Linked DNA regions of Homo sapiens. The protein of the gene in region 2 purifies or fractionates together with the protein of the main gene of each other region. This does not show direct contact. Each region holds a gene or a part of one and is shown on either strand. Other genes may lie near its edges.

Evidence for each region.
Region 1: the proteins of XAGE3 (region 2) and RNPEPL1 purify together in Homo sapiens (affinity purification with mass spectrometry; 2 studies listed by BioGRID and IntAct, with this or other methods). This does not show direct contact.
Region 3: the proteins of XAGE3 (region 2) and RSPRY1 purify together in Homo sapiens (affinity purification with mass spectrometry; 2 studies listed by BioGRID and IntAct, with this or other methods). This does not show direct contact.
Region 4: the proteins of XAGE3 (region 2) and EHMT1 purify together in Homo sapiens (affinity purification with mass spectrometry; 2 studies listed by BioGRID and IntAct, with this or other methods). This does not show direct contact.

What each region holds. Positions count from the first base shown.
Region 1 is NC_000002.12:240,564,535-240,571,484, forward strand, and holds the start of RNPEPL1 (aminopeptidase RNPEPL1), read left to right. Parts: upstream 1-3,949; 5' UTR 3,950-4,052; coding exon 4,053-4,580; intron 4,581-6,950. UniProt on the Homo sapiens protein: Broad specificity aminopeptidase which preferentially hydrolyzes an N-terminal methionine, citrulline or glutamine.
Region 2 is NC_000023.11:52,865,041-52,872,439, reverse strand, and holds the start of XAGE3 (X antigen family member 3), read left to right. Parts: upstream 1-4,356; 5' UTR 4,357-4,434; exon of another isoform or gene 4,435-4,627; intron 4,628-5,138; exon of another isoform or gene 5,139-5,190; intron 5,191-5,284; exon of another isoform or gene 5,285-5,298; 5' UTR 5,299-5,306; coding exon 5,307-5,387; intron 5,388-5,901; coding exon 5,902-6,007; intron 6,008-7,399.
Region 3 is NC_000016.10:57,238,285-57,240,969, forward strand, and holds the end of RSPRY1 (RING finger and SPRY domain-containing protein 1 isoform 1 precursor), read left to right. Parts: intron 1-594; coding exon 595-691; 3' UTR 692-2,185; downstream 2,186-2,685.
Region 4 is NC_000009.12:137,832,002-137,836,668, forward strand, and holds the end of EHMT1 (histone-lysine N-methyltransferase EHMT1), read left to right. Parts: intron 1-2,347; coding exon 2,348-2,523; intron 2,524-2,771; coding exon 2,772-2,952; 3' UTR 2,953-4,126; downstream 4,127-4,667. UniProt on the Homo sapiens protein: Histone methyltransferase that specifically mono- and dimethylates 'Lys-9' of histone H3 (H3K9me1 and H3K9me2, respectively) in euchromatin.

The DNA.
Region 1 (6,950 bases), on a different chromosome or scaffold from region 2:
CCTTGGTCAGGAAAATCTAAACCACTTAAGGAACTGGGCAGAAAGAAACTGAATGCAGGGAGAAGAAGGCTGGGGAGCCAAGGACAGGAGAGGAGACATAGGGGAGTCACAGGGACCTGCCACCCAGATCCCCACTGCCTGATGTCCTGGCTGTGGAGGGCACCTGGAGCTGCCAGCAGAGCCTCCTGCCCACCAGCTGCTGAAGCCACAGTACATCTCCTTCCTCCCACCTCCCAGACCTCTCACTGGTCTCATCTGGGCACCGAACATGGGAAGCCCCTCCTGTGACAGGCAGGGGAGAAGGAGGCTGTGCTGACAGACGGCCTGGTGAGGGAACCCGGGAGGCCTCCAGCATCTGCACCCCTCTCCTACTTTGATCTCTGTTTCACCAACATTGCACCCCAACTTAAGGTCACATAGCTACTGTCAAGCCAACAAGGTGCTGCCTCTCCCGCCGTGTGAGGGTGGAACCCCATAAGCCACCACTGGAGGCATCCAAGCATGTTGATTCCTTCTCTAGTTCAGACACCACCTCTCCTGGACATCCTGTGGCCTAAAGACTATCCTAGAATCAACACTCCTTAAATAGGAGTGGGGAAAGAAAAGGAAAATGTGTGTAATACATGTGAATCACAGATAACGTAGTCATTGGTTAATATATACAACTACGCGTATTTACATTCTGTATGCGTCAATGAGTAAAATACTGTGGTTGGTGCTTATCTGCCTTTTCCAATACTCGTTCCATGTTCTACCCTCAGCCAGTGCCTAAGCTGCTTATGGCCTTCACCTGGTGGCATGACTCGATCCTTCATTTTTAAGGCCCCAGGCCCTGCATGGCTGCCCACACAGGTGCTGTGGCCTCCGTTACCTGTACTGCACCACCAGAGAGAAGTAGGAGGCACCACTCTTCCTGGCCCCCAAGCCTCACAAAGCCTCATGCCCACCTGCCAGAGCCAGCCCTGTGTTGTCTCATGCTTCCGTGGCTGGGCCGTGTCTGAGCCACCCTCCCAGTGAGACCCGATTGTGTTCCTAAGCAAAAGCATCCCACCTGGGGACCGAACATCTCTGATGCGGCAGAGCCCAAAGCTGGGGGGATGGGAAGCACGGGTTTTGTCAGCCAAGCGTGGGGGTGGTAGTGAGAAGGGCCTTCTCCCTCCCCACGCCTTGTGTACCTGGGCCTCAAGCATAGGCCACACCTTGTTGGTCGCTGCCCCTCTATGCCGTGTCACCAGCCGGCACCACCCATCGCTGTGGACCGCGGCCCCCATCACAAGCTGGTGCCCAGGGCAGTCCCCATCTCTGTGGAGGGCTTGCCTGCCGCTGGCCTCTCTAGATAAGCTCCTCATGACTCATGCAACCTTTTCATCAACCCGGAAGGAAGCAGCCGCCGGTCGCCACTAGTGGGTGAGGAACAGTGGCTTGGAGAGGAGGGAGGACCTGGGTCTGCGGTTTCCCCCGCGGCTCAGCCCTGCTCACAACACCCTGATGAAAACCTCGGCTGCCCTTGCCTCAGGGCAGGGCACACCCTTTACCTGCTGACCTGGCCCTGGTGACAAGGGGACAAGGGCAGCAGGGCCCCGGCCAGGTTGAAGGACACCTGTGGGTCACATCAGACCTTTTTAGCCCACCAGCTCCATCTGAGAACTGGTAGCTCCCTGGTCCTCTGTCGGGGTTGGGCGCGGCCCTGTCTGAACACTGCTTCTTCCTGGAAGCTTTGCTGCCCTCCCCAGCCTGCTAAAACGCTCCATGCCCACACCCACCTCCTAGTGGGTGAAGCCAGGAACCCCTCCCTCGGGTGCATCAGGGGAAGGCTGGGGTGCAGATGCCGCGCAGCCACTTCACTGCGCTGATCACCAAAAAGCTGGAGTATGAAAACTCCTGTGGGAGAAAGCCAGGGCTGACAGTCGCGACGTCCAGGCTCCTCTGCCAGGGTTAGAGAAGTCAGAGGTGTCTGCCCAGGCCTGCATGCGGCGTAGCCTCCCGCCGCCAGGGGGCGTCAGGCCGGCGGGGGCGGGGCCTCCTCGGGCGGGGCGGGGCGGGGCGGGGCCGGCGCGAGAGGCTCCCGCGGCTCAGTTGCAGACCCCGCCCCCTCGGCTCAGCCGCGCCTCCCGCTCCATGGGGTGCAGTAGGGCAGCTCCTCACATACGTGCGCGGTGGGAGGCGCTCCCTTGGGCCCCCGGGGAGGAGGTGCCACAGCAACTCTGGACTCCTGTGTGCAGAACTGGCCGCGGAGAGGTGCCCAGGGCGAGACCCCAACCTCTGCTCCCTGAGCCCAATGCGGGGCTCTGGGTGGCAAGACCCCAAGCTCCCTGTGGTGACTTGCCCCCCGGACGGCCAGGCCCAGCTAGTGTGGCACCGCGTGTGCAGAACTGAGGTTCTTCCAGCCAGGAACATGGCCCGGTGGGCTCTGGAGAGCCCCGTAGAACTGGGGGTGCCATCGAAAACAGTCTGCCCTTGGCACTGCAGGGCCCCACCGGGCAGGGCGCTGGGGGCAGTGAGGAGGGTCCCATCTCAGCTGTCTTCCCTGTCAGCCTTGGATGCGAGGCTGATCCACACCTCTGAGTGACTGTGTAAGCCTAGGGGTTCCTGGTGAGTTTGGGATGGGTGCCCCAAGATCGTGGCCGTGTCCCTAAAGAGGGCACGTGGGGACCTGAGGTCCTACGGGAAAACTGAAATGATGCCTCAGTGCTCTGTCCCGCAAACGTGAACGCACACTCTCCCTCTCAGCCTTCCTTCCCGCCCCACGGAAGGAGGGTAGACACAGAGGGTTACACAACGAGGAGACTGAGTCCAGACACAGGAAACACTACTCAGGGCTGACGCTGAGTCGAGTGCGGTACCCGAGTCCAGCCCTGCACGGCCACACCTCAATGGAGCAGAAGAGAGAGGTGTCCTGGGTTCCTGGATAGTTCCCCAGCCCCAGAAGCCCCTTGTCCCTAGGAATTTGAATTCTTACTTGATGACAACAGCGACATCATGGTGGCCCCTGTTATTCCACAGCCTCAAAATTTAACCGCTGTGAGCTCACTAGCAGCTTCTGCCAGGCGAGCACCCCTTCCCTCGGGGCTCAGGCTCCTGGACAGGCTCAGCCTTGGGCAGCCTTCGCCAGGTCCACAGAGAATGGCGTTGGGAAGGGTGGACCTGGCGGATGGGGTGGGGACAGGCGGGCCAGACCCTCCTTCGTACCCCAGCACAGGGCTCCCAAATGAGAGGTCCCCAGCACTGCCCAGAGGAACTTCTGCGATTGTGGAAATGATTCCTGCCTGCTTTGTCCATTAGCCACTCCTCCCAGGAAGACACACACACTCACTCACTCCACCTGCCACGAAGGAACTGAACTTCTAACTGTATTTAATTCGCATCTAAATGGCCACACGTGGTTGGTGGCTGCTGTAGTTGACAGCGCTGCGTGAAGGCTCCGGCGCTTCTCGCACCGCAGGGCCCACAGCACAGACCACACCTGTAGACTTGGAGGAGTGGCAGGGGTGCCAGGAGAATCCTGCCCTGCCCGTAGCCCCGGATGAAAGGATGACATTGAGTTCGCGACGCTGCGCTCCTCGGGAACACGAACCACACCTGGAAGCAGCCTGCCCCTGTGGCCCCAAGGTTCCCGGGTCCCTTCAGCGGCTGCCCCAGGGGCCTGGCCGGCAGTGTCTGGGAGGGAGCAGCGATCCCGCCTCCTGGGATCTCCCGGGCGCCGCCCGGGGAGGAAGCGAGGGGCTGGGGGTGCTGCTCACCCGCTCCGCGCGCCTCGGCTCCCAACACAGCGCCCCGGCCCCGCGCCGCGCTCGATTCCCCGGCTCCCCGCGCCCCTGGCTCCTGGCCCTCCCCGCCCGGCGCCCCGGCCCCGCGCCCCGGCCCCGCGCACAGCGCCCCCGGCGGCGGCCGAGCGGAGCCCGAGCGGGGCGGCGCACGGCGCGGGGCCGGGCCGGGCGGCTCCCGGCGCGACTTCCTGTTGTGCCCGCGCCCCGCCGCCGCCGCCGCCCGGCGCCCCTCGCCCGCGGCCCGGCGCGGCCGCCGCCCATGGATTTCACCTAGTGCCGGCGGCCATGGCCGCGCAGTGCTGCTGCCGCCAGGCGCCCGGCGCCGAGGCCGCGCCCGTCCGCCCGCCGCCCGAGCCGCCGCCCGCCCTGGACGTGGCCTCGGCCTCCAGCGCGCAGCTCTTCCGCCTCCGCCACCTGCAGCTGGGCCTGGAGCTGCGGCCCGAGGCGCGCGAGTTGGCCGGCTGCCTGGTGCTCGAGCTGTGCGCGCTGCGGCCCGCGCCCCGCGCGCTCGTGCTCGACGCGCACCCGGCTCTGCGCCTGCACTCAGCCGCCTTCCGTCGCGCCCCCGCCGCCGCCGCCGAGACGCCCTGCGCCTTCGCCTTCTCCGCCCCCGGGCCGGGGCCCGCGCCGCCGCCCCCGCTGCCCGCCTTCCCCGAGGCGCCCGGCTCCGAGCCCGCCTGCTGTCCGCTGGCCTTCAGGGTGGACCCGTTCACCGACTACGGCTCCTCGCTCACCGTCACGCTGCCGCCCGAGCTGCAGGCGCACCAGCCCTTCCAGGTCATCCTGCGGTACACCTCGACCGACGCCCCCGCCGTGAGTCCGGGGCGGGCGCCGGGGCTGCGGGCCGGTCCGCAGGGCGCTGCTAGCGGCCTCTCGCCGCACGGCCAGGCTGAGGGACGCGAATCTGCGCCCTACAGGTGCCCCCCTCCCCCCACCCCGGTGATTCCCAGCTGTTGCCTGTGAGCCCTTAGGACCCTCGGATAGAAGCCGGAGTCCTGCGGGGACACGGGACAGCATGTCACTCCGGGAAGCCTCCCGTTCAGGTGTCTGGTCCCTGCCTGGGGACATGAGCAGCTTCTGTCACCCACCGAGGTGTACATCTGCAGGATCCTGGCACCAAGGGTTGGGCTGGAGTGTCAGCTGCGGAAGGGCCTCCATGTGACCAGTGCGTGCAGATGAGTCCAAGCCAGAGGCAGAGGAAAGGGCCATGGAGATTGTGATGCTCGGTTTGGGGCTTCCTTGGCCAGCACTGGTGGAGTGTTGAGACCAGTGGGCCCCGCGACCCCAACATAGACACACATAGGCTCTGCAGGGCTTGCACACTGGGTACCCACCACTCCAGAGACTCTGCAAGAAAGGCCAGGTGGCTGAGGCTGGCGCTGTGGCTGCAGCACCCCCTCCACCTCCACCAGTGGGGATGTGTACAGGATGGAGCAGGGCCTTTCCTGCCTACAGCATGGGGGTTCATACTGCATCCCTAGGTGGTATGGACGGCACACATGTGACACCCGACATATGCAAGACACACACAGCTGTGGAGGCGCTGGGAAGTCCAGCTGTCACTGGTCACGGCACATAAATGGACAGGGTGGTGGAGAGGTGGTCGAGAGGCTTCAGGCCACAAAGAGCCAAGGTGACATCTGGGCAGGAAGAACCCAGACCAGTGCACCCCTATGGGCTTCCTGTACATTTCCCAGGAGCCCTAAGCAGGACCTGCCACCTCACCTTTTTCCCAGAACCCCTGTGGGTGTGCAGGCCGCTGGCTAGCCGGCCCCGCCCCTGCTGTGGTATTCCAGGGCTCTGACCGGTGGCAAGTATGCCTCCCAGTATGACAGGTGAGAACTGAGGGATGGGCTTCTCCTTGGCCTTGATCCGTGTTTGGAGCCCACGTGTCTGGTCCGCCCAACACTGGCCTGCAGAGTGGCCGGACCAGGGCCCTCAGCAGGCTGCTGTGAACGGGGCCCAGTGAGCAAGGGTGGCCATTGTCTCTTGGCTTCCTATGGCCTACTGGGTGGCCCTTGGGTACTCTGGGCAGGGAGAGTGGCATAGTCCCCCAAGTCTGCGTGGTGTCAGGGTTGGCAGGCTGTGGACAGGGGGCCTAGCGTCACCTGGCCTGTGAGCCGCCCTACTTGCAGAAGGCAGAGTATTCGACTCTAACCTCAGGCATGCACCTTTGTATGTGAGCGCCATGGGGCTGGGGCCACACGTAGAGTCCCCTTCTCTTCCTGCATGTTCCAGGGACTCAGGCCCAAATCCCTAAGCCTGTCCCTGTGCCAGGGAGGATGCAGCGGAAGCTCCCTGGGAGGCCCTGCCAGTGGGCCCCAGGCCCCCAGAGGCTTTTTGGAGGTGCTGCAGATGCTTGGGCCCATTCCCGCACCCCCACCCCACCCCAGCAAGAACAGCGTTCTTCCTGCCCTGCAGCGTCTGGAGCCCTTCAGCCTTGTTCCTTTTCCACCAGCCCATCAGCACCTGTGCCCGGGTGCCCTGACGGGGATTGGTGCCCCATCTGTGGGGCAGGGCCTGTCCTGTCTGGGGGTCTGCCCCAGCCCCTCACTTCAGGGCAAGTGGGGAGCTGTGGGCCCTGCTGGTATCTGGGAAGACACCCAGGCTACTGAGGCTGTGGGGTGGACATGGGGCAGTAGGGAGAGGTGTGAGTGGGCAGAGCCTGAGAAGGGCCTCAGGAGGGTGAGGCAAGGCCACAGGAGAGGAGTAGTTGTGAGGGGGCCGTGCAGGCTGAAGGGTTGGGGAGACTCCTGCAGGGAGGTTCCTTCATACAGATTCCCAGGTCCCAGCCCCCCCCAAGGGGGAGGCTGCGTTTGTGAATGGCTCCCCAGGTGGGCCCTGAACACCCTGGCAGCCCAGGGCTCAGCAGGAATGGGAGACGCCTGTGCTACCTTGCTGCCCAGCAGGGCCAGGGCACCAACAGGAAGTTTGGAAGAGATCTGAGAATGCTGGCAGGGGTCTGGCCGGGACTGCGGGGGAGGCAGCCCTCCTGGTCTGGGATCCTCCAGGCCTCAGCTGTGGATTCCACTTGTCCAGTCTTAGAAGCATGTTGGGGGCACCTTCTACTCATGGTCATGGGAGGGCCTCTGCACGAAGAGCAATTCAGTTTGCCTTGACTATCTCATTCCGGCAGAGGGGAGGGTGGATACGACGTGCAGGGCTGACTTGGGACGAAGGTGA
Region 2 (7,399 bases):
TCAGATGGAGAATGGTGGGAAACCTCCTGAAATCAAGTTCAGAGATGCCAGGCAAGGGCCAGTCTTGCAAGCTGGCCTTTCTAAGGATAGTAGTTTCAGACCTGCTATATTACCTCTTTTTTGCACAGAACTCAACTACAAAGCTTTAAAATGCATAATCAAATCAGACAGAACCAATGGAAAAAAGTCAGCAACATATAGATGAACTGAATGGCACCATGGACTAATTGGATCTAAGTGACATGTAAAGAAAGCTCCTCATAACGACAGCAGACCGTGTATTCCCTCATGGGTGGTTTTGAGGGGTTCATGGCTCCAGTGGATGAAGTACCTGCCGACATGGTGGAAACAGCAAGAGAACAAGGGTGGAGCGTGAAGAGGTGACTCAACTGCTGCCATCTCATGATAAAACTTTAACCTGTAAGGAGTTGCTTCTTATGGATGAATAAAGAGAGTAGTTTCTTGCAATGAAATCTACTCCCGGTGAAGATGCTGTGAACACTGTGGAAATGACAGCAAAGGATGAGTTGATTAGGTAATGGCAGGATTTGAGAGATCTGACTCCAATTTATAAAGGAGTTCTACTGTAGGTAAAATGCTATCAAGCAGCATTGCCTGTTATGGAGAAATCTTTCGTGAAAGGAAGAGTACATCAATGGAGCAAATTTCACTGTTGTCTTACTTTAAGAAATTGCCACAGCCCTCCATGTAGTATTAGCTTGTTAAAAAGTAAATAAAAAAAGAAAATAAATTGCCACAGCCACCCAACTTTCAGCAACCAGCACCCTGATCAGTCAGCAGCCATGTACATCCAGGCAAGACTCTCTACCAGCCCAAAAGTTACAACGCACTGAAGGCTCAGATGATCTTTAGCATCTTTTAGCAATACAGTATTTTCCAATTAAGTTATGTACATTTTTTGACATAATACTATTGCACAGTTAACAGATTGTAGTGTAGTATAAACATCACTTTTATTTTATTTTATTATCATTTTTAAAATTTTTTATTTCAATAGGTTTTTGGGGGAACAGGTGGTATTTGGTTACATGAGTAAGTTCTTTAGTGGTGATCTGTGAGATTTTGATGCACCCATCACCTGAGCAGTATATACTGAAACCAATTTGTAGTCTTTCATCCCTCACCCCCCTCCCACCCTTTCCCCTGAGTCCTCAAAGTCCATTGTATCATTCTTATGCCTTTGCATCCACATAGCTTAGTTCCCACTTATGAGTGAGAACATACTATAAACATCACTCTTATATGCACTAGGAAATAAAAAAATGTGTGAGACTTGCTTTATTGTGGTGTTCTGGAACAGTACATGCAATATCTATGATTTATGCCTGCATAAATTTCTGAAGGGGACATGATTTAATATGTAAAAGTCCACCATCTGGCACCTCAAATTCATGTTCTCTCACATCTAAAATACATTCATCTCATCTCAACATCCTCAAAACTCTTAATTCTTTTCAGCATCAACTCTAAATCCCAAATCTCATTCAAATGTCATCAAAATCAGGAAAGGGTGAGAGTCAGAGTATGTTGTATTCTGGGGCAAAATTATTTTCATCTGTGAACTTGTGAAACCAGACAAGATGTTATCTGCTTCCAAAACAGCATGAAGGTGCAGGCATAGTAGAAACATTCCTATTCCAAAATGGAGAAGATGGAAGGAGAAAAGGAGTCATGGGGTCCAAGCAAGGTTTCAGACTTTAAGAGATTTTAAGGCTTCAGAATGGTCCTCTTTGGCTTGATGATGTGTCCTCTGGGCCTAGTAGGGTGGCAGCTCTGCCCTCTTGGCCCTGAATGTTAGCCCTGCTCCCTCACCCCTGGGCAGAAGCCCTGTTTTCTGAAATTGAGGAGGTGGCTCTGCCATCTGGAGCTCAGGAAGAGGCGTCTGGATTCCTGTTCCCCAGGTCATTGCTGTCTGGGCCTATAGAGGCAGTGGCAGCTTGCCAGCCTCTGCATCTGTAGCTCTCCCCTCAAAGTCACTCTTCCTTTATTTTGTCCCATTTCTGTCCCTTTCATTTCAGGCTGGCTGTGCTTCTTTTGGTATAAAATCCTCAAAAACATGTTGGCCTCTGATGCAATTCATGGCATCCATGCCAACAGACCCTGAATCCTCCCTAGATCTTTCCTGGATAAATGCATCTCCTTCCCTGCATTCTGCTGAGATGGTTGACTGGATCCATGACTCACATAGCTCATATCCTTAGCAATCAGTTGTCCTGCTACACCCTTGGCCCTATTTCCAGAGCTTGCTATCTGGTTAGGCTGAGAATCTTCTAAATAATCAAGGGCTGATTCCTTTTTGCTCAGCAATTCTGTTGTTGTTTTATTTCTCCTCCCTTACATTTTGCAACCAACAGCGAGGAGAAACCAGGCCACAACTTCAATACTTTGCTTAGAAATGTTCTTAGCTACATATACAATTTCATCACTTACAAGTTCTACTCTGCATCTAAGAGAATGCATTCTAGCCAAATTCTCTGCTACTTTCTTACAGGGATTGTGTGTCCACATGTTTCCAACACCGTGTTCCCCATTCCTGTCTGAGAGCTCACCTTCAACATTCATATTTCTAGGAATATTCTGTTCATGATGATTGATGTATTCTCTAAGATGACAGAAACTTTCTCTATAGTTATATAAACACCCACACAATGCTAGAAACTCTCCTCCATTTGAATGACCTCCCATAATGATTCATTTAGAGGAGAGAAGCGATCTGCTGGGAACTCTTAGAGCTTCTAAAACCCAGTCTACCTGTGCTTGCCCTGGCATTCTCTGCCGCCCTTCTGCATACAATGCTCCTAACTAAAGCCAGCCCCTCACCTCAGCTCAGGATCCCATGCCTCCCACCTTTTCAGGAGCTTTGCTCCTGCAATGATCATTCCTCTCTCCTGAACCACCAACTCTTCCCTCTAAATGGGATCATTCTCCAAGCTAAGGGGGGAACTCCCCTTCTTCCCCCATGTCCTCCTATAGCTACTAACACATTTATCTGCTGCCTTTCAAAGCGAAACTGCATGAACTTATACAACCCACTTCATTGGAGTCATTTTTTCAAAATTATATGGAAAGGAAAATGAACGAGAAAAACCAAAACGATTCTGAACTATAACTTTGGGGAAATCACACTACCTAATTTCAAGAGTCATGTTAATTCTATAGTAATCCAGGGAATGTGGTACTGGGGAAAAATCAACAGATCAGAATGGAGTCCAGCAATAGGTTCACAGACATGATAAACTCATTTTCAAAAAAGGTGCAAAGGCAATGGAGAAATATTATCTTCTTGAGAAATTGTGTTGTTTTCTCCCTTGCTTCTTGGCCACGACATTCATTGTTCTTTACTCCCCTGGGTCCGTTCCCCGTGTTTCTCCTTTGCAGTTCAACTGCTCTTCTGTTTAACTGTCTGTCTGCCCCACCACAGTGTGGTAGCCTCCATGGGACATACCACGTGTGGTTCCTTGGTCTTCACATTTCCAGCATCCCAGATATTTCCTGCAACATGGCAGACACCCATGCATATATAAATGAGAAAGAAGTATGTATGAATATATATAATAAAATAATTTATTTCTGTCACAAAAGGTCTGAGACACATCCTCCACTCATGGTGACATGGGACTGTCCCCAGTGTTTCTGGATGCATGAGAATGGTAGGGCAAGAGAGAGAACGAAGCCTCTTAGTCCCTTTCCTTCTACTACAAACACCTTAGGGATGCGAGCCTGGGGAGAGAGGGAAAACCCCGGGTGGCCTTGCATGTGCCTGACTCAGTGTGCACGTCCCTTGCTGCCCAAGTCCCTTGTCCATGTGCCTTGCTGTCCGCCTTCTGTCCCTGCAGAGCTGTGCAAGGAGACATCATGACTTCCTTCTGTGCTGCTGACTAGGAGTCAGCCAGTAAGTCCGAAGATCAGTCTTCCCAGAGTTGAAGTGGGAGAGACTGTGAGGAGGAGCCCGCGGCGCGGTCTATGGCCTCCGACGGGGAGGTCCTTGAGGTTCCTGTCCTTCTCCTAACAGGTGGTGACACAGCCATGGCCTTGCTGTCGTGGGGGTCCCAGACAGGGGAGGAAGGAGGGCCATAGAGGGGAGGAGGACCTAGTGAACATGGAGTGAGTTTTGAAGGGGGAAACTATTTGTGGTATTTGAGTCCCGGAGGCATATGAAACCGCCCACAGAAGACACATTCCGAAGTCTTCAGTGGGAACCTGGGAGAGGGTAGAGAACTGCGCGGCGCGGCATGGGGTGGGGCTAGGAGAGGCGCCACAGCCCACTAGGCAGGCACCGACCTCACTGCGCATGTCCACTGGGTGTCTTCCCCTCGGCCCCTTTTCCCACGTGGTGAATGCCCTGGAGTTGTGAGGGTGTGAGGGTCGCGTTCCTGCTGTCTGGACTTTTTCTGTCCCACTGAGACGCAGCTGGTAGGTCCGCAGGCCAGTCCTCCCAAGGGTTGAAGTGTGAGTGCGTGTGAGGAGGAGCCAGTGGCTGTCCGGAGCGTGGGAAAGCATAGCCCGTGGCCTCAGAGGCCGAAGGGTCTCAAGGTGATCGTCCTTCTCCTCGTGAGGTGGCACTGCCATGGGCCTTGTTGTGGTGAAGTCAGAATGAGGGAAGAAGGTGGGCCGCGTAGTTGAGAGGGGTCAGGTGAAAATGGGGCGAGTGCTGGGGGTGCTGGGGCAGGTATCCGAGTCCCTGGAACCCTCGACCGAGGACGGATTCCAGACTCCTCCGTGTCGACCCGGGAAGGAGCAGGGTGGGCATTAAGGAAGGGAACTGGGAACGCTGCGGGTTGGTGACTGTGGCCCTGAGGTCTGTAAAGCGCCTGGCAGAGGTGTACAGTGAGGAGGGCCCAGAGCTGTGTGGCAACTTCTCAACTCCACTGTGGAGGTTTGAATGGGCGGGGCTCTGCATTCCAACAAAACTTGATTTTAGGGGGGAAATGGGCCCAGCAAATGGGTGTGTGACAAAAGCCGTGGTCACTGCAGTTTTAATTCTCTGGCTGTATTTTCCCAAATGTCTCCACGGAGGAGAGTTCAGTTGTGAAACCAAACCTCATCGGAAATATCCTGTCTTTTGCCAGGAGCCTTAAGAAATTGCTCAGCTAGCTTGACCAACTTAATGGCTTCCCAAGCATTCAGAAGGCACACATACTTACACTTGCCCTGAGACTTAGTTCGAAAGTATTTACAAACTTTTAAAAAATGACAAGTTAATATTTGGTCATGGAAGTGGTCAAATATAGCTGTCTTTTCAAGTGCATTTACCAATTCACAGTATTCTGTTTGCAGTGTGAAATATGATTTGGCGAGGAAGATCAACATATAGGCCTAGGCCGAGGAGAAGTGTACCACCTCCTGAGCTGATTGGGCCTATGCTGGTGAGTGCCTTAACCTTTGATGTTTTCTATTAGCAGAAAGTTATTTTTGTAACTTGTTGTTGTTGCAAAACTATGTTTTGTAATTGTTGTTGAACCAGTATAGATATACCAATAAAGGTCTCCCATGCTGAGAAAAATAATCATGGCATCTCATGAAGGAAAGACTAGTCCAAGAGGATTAAGTTCTTCTGTTGTCTGGATGGATGATCTTGTGTTCCCCAGATTTTGCCCATGATTTCCTTCTCATGCTTATTTGCAAAAGATTACACACATTCATCCCAGCTTAGATTAAAACAGCTTCCAAAGCCCTTGAGGGCAACTGTCTTAGAGTAACCTCTCTGTGGGAAGAGTAACTTTATGAAAAATAAGTATGTGGAATCGTGTTGGAGAAATGTCTTTAGACTTATGATCAGAAATATCTATGTATTCTGTATATTTGTATTATTGAAATGTATCGATAACAAAACTTTTTATCTGCACACACACACACACACACACACACCCCTGGTTCCAGGAGCCCGGTGATGAGGAGCCTCAGCAAGAGGAACCACCAACTGAAAGTCGGGATCCTGCACCTGGTCAGGAGAGAGAAGAAGATCAGGGTGCAGCTGAGACTCAAGGTGCTGGGAAGGGAAAGAAAGAATGTCTATGGGGAGGGGAGGAGGCCTATGTGTGCATCATGCCTTATGCCATGACCAGTAACAGGAGGAAAGAAAACATTAGGAAAGGATCTCAAACATTTGCTGAGAGTTGGCTGGAAAAGTGAAGAGTATAGTTTGCAGCTTCATGGATATAATGAATCTTCTCTTACCTTTGAAATATATTTCGTATGCTTGAAAATACAGTCCTTGCTAAATCAGATGAAACTGTTTAATTTGATGTACAAAAATATACATTATTTCACTAGTTTACTTTGATCTTCTTAGAATGTTGTTGTCTGATCTTCTCAGCCAAGGTGTCCACAGTATTGTATGCACCCTTTAATAGCATGTAGAATGCCAAGTCACCCTACCTGAATACACTGAATAAAGCCCATTTGCATAAGGATGTTAGCCCCATTTTATAAATAAGAAAACTGAGGCTCTGAAATGGAGGCTTACCAAGAACAGTTGAGTCATGGAGAAGGAATTCATATTTCATTCCAAGGTTTGTGTTCTCCCTACCATTCACATTAGAAAACGTGAATGATTTTGCTTGAAATGTTAATACTCAAATGTGTCTGTACTGTAAGTACTTCAGTATTGGCTCAGGACAAAACAAAGTTCAGTGAAGCAGGATAGCAACGCCAGAAAAGAGCTCAATGAATGACAGCCACTCTTTCCTTTGCTTTGTATTTTTGAAAGTATGTTTGGTAAAATCTGGATAATTCAGGACATTGGCATACAGGTAGCTATATTAGTATGATTTTAAGGGGCTTTTAAAGAGTTGTTTATATACTTTTATAATTAGAAAACTCGAAGTACGATAAGATTATCATGAAACAGAAATTATTTCCTCAACAGAGAGCATTTTGAAGTTAAACATTGACAGAATTTGGGTCATGGGTTACTTTAGCAATTCACTGTTAAGGGGTTTCCAGAATATGACTGTCAACAATGCCCATTAATTTTTTTTTCACTCAAGTTTCTGTACTCTTGTGGAAGACAGCGATTTTGCTGTTATATTCGGTATTTTTTTGTGAATGGGATTCATTTATGGAAAGTTACATATAGGGCCTTTGGACCTAAGTTTGTTTAATTTTAACCAAAAAATTTTCAAGTTACCTCAACAGGTGATGAGTGTCAGGACTGTAAGATTTGTCATAGGCTCACCAATATATTCATCTAATCTTTCAGAAAATTACATTTAAGTTATTATTAAAATGCTATCCATTGGGCAGTCTTTAGGTTTCCTAGATAGCTGACACTCACTGTTTATAGTACACAATGGTAAAGTATAGGAAATGTAAGTGTGGTCTGATTTTTCCTCAGATTGTCATTTAAGATAAGATTTCATAGTACAGGAAAACAAAG
Region 3 (2,685 bases), on a different chromosome or scaffold from region 2:
AGAGCAACATGATTTTTTTCTGGAACTTGACATGCTGATTTAAAAGTTTAAGGCAAGAAAATTCTGAAAGTTAGGGAGATGACAACCATACCACATCTTAAAATACATTAAAATAAATGTTAATAGTTTGGTCCCATTACTATATGACAAGAATGGCAGAATAATGGAATACAATAAAAGCCCAGAAATAGAACTAACTAAAAATGAAAATTTACCATATGACAAAGGCATTGTGTCAAAACTGTGGTGAAAGATGGACTGTTTGGTAAATGATTCTGGGATAAATGGCTAGCTTTCTGGGGAGAAATATTATATCCCTACCTATAAGTGCACATCTGTAAGTATATGCTGTGCACATATAGAGTGTCTGAAAGAATGCATATGAACTTTTTACTTGTTCCACAGACTAAGACAATTGAGGATCAGAAATGTAAGATTTACTTTTTATTTACATATTCATTTTTTTTAAACCATGTATAATTAGTAACCCTTTCAATGAACAAACTTGTTAACATTTTTGATTTAGTTGGCAGGCAGTTGGAGTTTGACCTTTTGAAGCATTAACTTGACTGACTTTTCTGTGTTTCTCCCCAGTGACCTGTGCATGGATTGTGCCTTGCAGCTGGAGACCTGCCCATTGTGTCGTAAAGAAATAGTATCTAGAATCAGACAGATTTCTCATATTTCATGACACATGTGAAGAGGCATCGTGGACTTTTTTCTACTCAATTCCAGCCAATGTTGAAAAGAAAAAGAAAAAAAAAACTCTCTAATCAGTTGTACACACATTGAAACTTATAGCCATGGCCAGATTTTATGCTAAAAATGGTAGTTTGTCAAAGACAAAATTCTCTTAGAATCTAATCCAACTTGCCAGCCCTGAGAAAATCCCTTTTAAGGCCAAGGAAAGCTGAATGCTAGCAGCCAGGCCTGTGGTACTTCCATGAGAAACCATAGCAGACAATGCCCTCCCAAGTACTGAAATCACACTGGAATCCCCCTTGTTGGGTTCATTTGATTGTTTAACACAGGATGTGTTGTGTCATTCTGAAGTTTTTATTTGGGGCAGAAGTCTTTATGGAGATGTAAATGACAGCGTTTCTGGGTTATGCATAACTTCTCACTGGTCAGAGACACCGGTGTGTCAAGCATGGATATTGCATTGCAAGACTTGAATCTATAAAAATTAGAATCACACAGTCAGTACTACAAGCAAAACAGAGAACCTGAAAGAAGGTGCACAGACTGTAAGAAAAAACCCAAGTTTGTGATATTTCAGTGATTCCAAAGAACATTCTAGGTTTTTTGTTTGTTTTTTTGTTTTTTGGGTTTTTTTTTTTTACTGCAGAAAATTGGTGGTATTTTCACATTCATAGTGTTTCTATCCAATTTCAGTACCCACATTTAATGAGGAAAAAATGTTTTACCAATGAAGGAGGAATTCTTAAATTAGCTGTAATGTTAGGTTGGAGAAAATTTGGTATTTAGGGTATTTTCAAGGTACCATCAAATCAGATTTCTGTTTTTTTGTTAAAAAAAATTTTTTTAATCAGTATTGTTTTTACAAGTAATATACTTTGAAACTCTTGAACTAATAGTCTCAAAAACTCTAGAGGACAGTCTGAGAACACGTATTTCTATTGTTCTAAATAAATACATGTTTTTGAATAGTTCAATCATGAATTATTGACTATGTCTTCATCAAAAGTGTTAATCCCTCTCAGGGTCTCTGGTGAAGACCTTCAAGAGTTTGGTTTTTTCTCCCAGGAAATTGGAAGGTAGAATTGTAAATTCATAGAACTTCTTTTATAATGGTGTACCTCAGCAGCTGCCTTTCAATTTATGCCAAGTCCTTACAGAGTTTATACTTGAATAGTAAATATGTCTTCTGAGTTTTACAGTGTCTTAAACTCAATGCACATTTTTTTTTCTTCTTTTTCCACCCCTTCTTGTTTGTAGTTCATTATACCTGTCCTATTACAGAACTGATTTCCTTCCTGGCTGTACATGTTGGGGTGCTGGATTTTTTTCCGTGTCTTTAGTCTTCCATAAATCCACACACACACACACACACAAAAAATATATATATATATAAATATATATGTAGGATACATGTTCTCTTCTTTAGCTTGTGGTGAATACAGTAATTTGCATTGAAGAATAAAACATCTGTTGCCTTTTTTGACTAAGATTTCACAACTTTCATTGGTGTATACTGCTAAGGTTCCAAGACATTATACTCTCAGACTTTAAGGGCTACTTTTGGGAGTAGGAGAGAATCAAGTATTAGAATTAAGAATAAGGCCACTTACTCATCCAGCAGATTGTTATTGAGCACCTAATATGTGCTGGGCACTGTGCCTATGTGGCATACAAAATATGCTTGTAGAGCTTATGTCTAATAAGCTTGTCTAATTATTGTCTATTATTATGTCTAACAGTAATTTGGAAGTGGTCCAGCTGAGACTAAAGGTAGTCTGTACATTTAGTAGAGAGAGGGAAAAATAGATGGAATTAATAGATAATTTGCGAGGCAAAGGAATGCAGGAGCCTAACAGCTTTCTAAAAATCTACCCTTGAAGTTTGTTCCTAAGGTGGGGAGAAGACAATATATTTGTGTTTATTGTAACAGATTTTTAGTGGAAAAGAATAGGGTCCTAGAGAGAATGAGGGGGACCTAATTTA
Region 4 (4,667 bases), on a different chromosome or scaffold from region 2:
CGCCTCCTACGTGGCCGCTGCACTTCGCCCCAGTCCTAGGATTGGCTGGGCTCCCTCCACAGGCTCCGCCTCCTACGTGGCCGCTGCACTTCGCCCCAGTCCTAGGATTGGCTGGGCTCCCTCCGCAGAACCCCCCAACCCCACGTGGCCCCTGTGCCTTCCCTCCAGTCCTAGGATTGGCCAGGCTCCCTCCACAGGCCCCACCTCCTACATGGCCTGTGTGCCTTCATTCCAGTCCTAGGATTGGCTGGGCTCCCTCCTCAGGCCCCGCTTCCCACGTGGCCTCTGCACCTCGCTCCCGTCCTAGAATTGGCTGGGCTCCCTCCACAGGCCCCGCCTTCCACGTGGCCTCTGCACCTCGCTCCCGTCCTAGAATTGGCTGGGCTCCCTCCACAGGCCCCGCCTCCCACGTGGCCACTGCACTTTGCTCCCATCCTAGGATTGGCTGGTCTCCCTCAGGCCCCGCCTCCCACGCGGCCTCTGCACCTCGCTCCAGTCCTAGGATTGGCTGGGCTCCCTCCGCAGGCCCTCCCCCCACCCACCCATGTGGCCCCTGTGCCTTCTCTCCAGTCCTAGGATTGGCTGGGCTCTCTCCGCAGGCCCCGCCTCCCACGTTGCCTATCTGCCTTACTCCAGCCGTCCTTCTCTGGACTGTTGTCTTTATCTGGTTCTGGTCGGGCAGAGATTTGTGTCACAGACTTTGACACCCCACCCATCTTAGAAGCTCGGAGCAGCGCTGTGTGCTCTGCCAGACGAGCTGCCCCTGGTGAAAGCTGGGCCTGGCCCCTCCAGTCGGAAGCCCCTCACTCTCCATTTTGCTGCTTATCAAGACCTTCGTGTGTGCGCCGTTGCTAGTTCCGGAATTGCATTCTGCACGAGGAGGGGTCGCCTATAGATTCTTAGTCCATCAGACCCCGAAGCAGAGGCCAAAGTCCACGCCAGGTGAGCCACTCTGAACTCTGTTTCTTTGGGGTAAACCAGGAGGCAGCTTCCCGCGCCTTTGGCTTTGGGGGCTGTGGCTGGTCCTGTCCTGCGGCCGTGCTCGCCTGGTTTACTGTCTTGTCACTGCCCGCGCCGTGAAGGTTGACGGAGAGCTGCTCTCGTCCACGCCTTTACCCGCTTGTTGGTTTGGGTTTTAACCTCTTGACCTCTGAGCGTCCCTGGCTCTCTGGTTAATGTTCATGCTGGGGCAGGTTGTGGACCAGGTGTCTCTGCCGGCAGGCCCCGCCCTCTCGGAACTCGGTCCTGGAAAGCCCCAGGTGCCTCCTTCCCCGTCTGCCTGGCTGTCGTCTGTGGTGTTGCCTCTTCCCGTCGCTGGGTAACAAACCACGCCACCCACCCGCAGCTCGCCATGGCGGCCACCCACTCGGCCCAGTGTGCGCAGCAGGGGTTGGGCGTGCCGGGCCTCGGGCTGCACAGGCAGGGTGCTGCTGAGCCCAGGTCCCTGTGGTTGCGTGGGCAGCGTCTAGGTTCCTTGCTAGCTGCCGGCCGGGACCACCTACCTTACTCCCACGCAGCTCCTCCATCCAGGCCCCAGCAGCTCCAAGCCCTGGGTCTCCAGAGAGAATTGCTTTTAAAGGGGTTGCGTGGTTAGGTCAGGCCCACCCACCTCGTCCCCCTCTCTATGGTCAATTCAGAATCCATCATCACAGGCCAGTGCCAGGGGCCAGGGCCCAGGGCCATGTGGCCACCCGGAATCCTGGGCTCCTCTCCAAGGCACCAGGGTGAGGAGGACGCCTCAGTCTCTTCGGCCTCGTGTTCCACAGTCACATCAGCACCCGGAAGGGCTGCAGCAGAAGTCGTTTTCTGTGGGCAGCCTCCGCCTGACGGTCCTCCCTGGTGCCATTCGCCACTGAGTCTTCCCAGACCCTCTGGGGACTGCTCCGCCTCCTCGTCACCAAGACAGTGTGTCCCGGATGCCAGCTCCATCCCTCCCGACCCCCTCAGCCCCTGCCACTGCCTCACGGGGCTCTTGCAGCCCCGGCCTCCTTTCTCCTATTGGTGCCAGACAGCCCCATGGGTCCTCGGGTGGGATGGCGCTGTCCACATTCCACCGCGCTGGAAGCCCCATGGGGACGCCGTCAAGGGAACGGCCCGCACCACCCCCACCCCACCACAGACGGAGGCCCAGCGAGGACGGCAGGGTGCGGGGTGGGTGGCCACACAGCGAGGAGAAGGCTGGCGGAGGCTCCGCACCGCCGCCACAGGTCACTGGAGAAGGCCCCTCCTGCATGGCGGGCCTGCGCCCAACTGCAGGCTCCGGGACTGCCATGCATGGCCGTACCCGGCGAGGCCGGCGTGTCGGGGCCTTGCTAACTGCAGCCCGTGCCGGCTTCTCGCCCTGCAGGACGGGGAGGTTTACTGCATCGACGCGCGGTTCTACGGGAACGTCAGCCGGTTCATCAACCACCACTGCGAGCCCAACCTGGTGCCCGTGCGCGTGTTCATGGCCCACCAGGACCTGCGGTTCCCCCGGATCGCCTTCTTCAGCACCCGCCTGATCGAGGCCGGCGAGCAGCTCGGGTACGCACCGCCCCGGCCCCTGGCCATCTCCGCTGCCGGCGGGACGGTTTTAGGAACGGGGCTCGCATTGCTTTCCTGGGCTTGTCTCGGGTTTATGCTAGTGGTTTTCCTGTAGTTCTAAAAACTGCGACCTGGGATGCGGCACGGCAGATCGGGGTGAGGAAGCTTTGGCCTTGCCTTAATTTATCTGGCTTGTGGGAGGTGCCGGTGGGATTCGACTTGGAGCCTTGGTTCTGTTCCCTCCCCAGGTTTGACTATGGAGAGCGCTTCTGGGACATCAAAGGCAAGCTCTTCAGCTGCCGCTGCGGCTCCCCCAAGTGCCGGCACTCGAGCGCGGCCCTGGCCCAGCGTCAGGCCAGCGCGGCCCAGGAGGCCCAGGAGGACGGCTTGCCCGACACCAGCTCCGCGGCTGCCGCCGACCCCCTATGAGACGCCGCCGGCCAGCGGGGCGCTCGGGAGCCAGGGACCGCCGCGTCGCCGATTAGAGGACGAGGAGGAGAGATTCCGCACGCAACCGAAAGGGTCCTTCGGGGCTGCGCCGCCGGCTTCCTGGAGGGGTCGGAGGTGAGGCTGCAGCCCCTGCGGGCGGGTGTGGATGCCTCCCAGCCACCTTCCCAGACCTGCGGCCTCACCGCGGGCCCAGTGCCCAGGCTGGAGCGCACACTTTGGTCCGCGCGCCAGAGACGCTGGGAGTCCGCACTGGCATCACCTTCTGAGTTTCTGATGCTGATTTGTCGTTGCGAAGTTTCTCGTTTCTTCCTCTGACCTCCGAGGTCCCCGCTGCACCACGGGGTTGCTCTGTTCTCCTGTCCGGCCCAGACTCTTCTGTGTGGCGCCGCCGAAGCCACCGTTAGCGCGAGCTGCTCCGTTCGCCCTGCCCACGGCCTGCGTGGCTGGGGCCGAGTCCCAGGGGCCGCACGGAGGGCACAGTCTCCTGTCAGGCTCGGAGAGGTCAGGAGACCGACCCCACCACTAACTTTGGAGAAAATGTGGGTTTGCTTTTTAAAGGAATCCTATATCTAGTCCTATATATCAAACCTCTAACTGACGTTTCTTTTCGAGGAAGTGGCTTGGTGGGTGCAGCCCCCGCCGGTTCCGTTGACGCTGGCACCTTCTGTTGATTTTTTAAGCCACATGCTATGATGAATAAACTGATTTATTTTCTACCATTACTGAACATTAGGACAAACACAAAATAAAAAACAAAACACAGACAACGGTGCTGATTCTGGTGTGGTTTCTACTCACCACGTGAAATAAACTATCAACTGTATAAAGAGAACAAAGTGATTTTAGAATAAAATGCAGGAAAAACTTTTTTAAAGATGTTAGTCTTGTAGCGTGAATAAATTTGCCATCACCTTTTGTGTGGTGGCCTGGCAGGTCATATACTTTTTTTTGGCATATACCTTTTTAAAGACTGTAATTAGTGCAGTAACAGTGGGGTTTTTTTTGTGCAACTCTTCTAAAAACATTCATAATGCAGTCATGTTTATTTTTTTCTGTTAAAATGTTTTTGACAGTTTTAAGAGCAGTCTTTTGGCTCTGACCATTTCTTGTTCTGTTTCCAATGAAATCAATAAAAAAAAAGAAGTACTTTAAATGGGGTTTTTATTATGACACCATATTTCAGGGTCTCTGCAGAACTTGCAGGTCCCCCTGGACCCGGCCCAGCTCTCTGTCCCCTGTCCAAGGAAGTACAGCTTCCTTTTCACCCCAGATCTGTCCCCGAAGAGGGGACGTTCCAGGCAGAGGTTAGGGGAGCCTGTGCATTTGCGCACGTGTCGAATGAGTCTGTGTGTGTCCACGAATGCATCGTGCACGTGGTGCGAATGCGGGCACACTGGTGTGTGTGTGTGTGTGTGTGTGTTTGCATGTCTGTGTCTAGCGCCAGGTGCCCAGCTCTGGGCGTCATTCTGGAAGCCGACAGGGCACATCAGGTGAGTCCCACAACCAGAGGCAGAGCTGCACTTGAACAGCGAGGCCGGACAAGGGAGAGCCAGAGCCCGTCCTACTTCCTGCCAGCCATGACCCCCACTCCTCTACGGGGACCCCTAGACCCAAAGCCTCCAGCCTGCTATGTTCTCCATGCTGACTGGCCTCACTCACCACAGGAGGGCTTTTCGTGTAACCTCAGTAACACG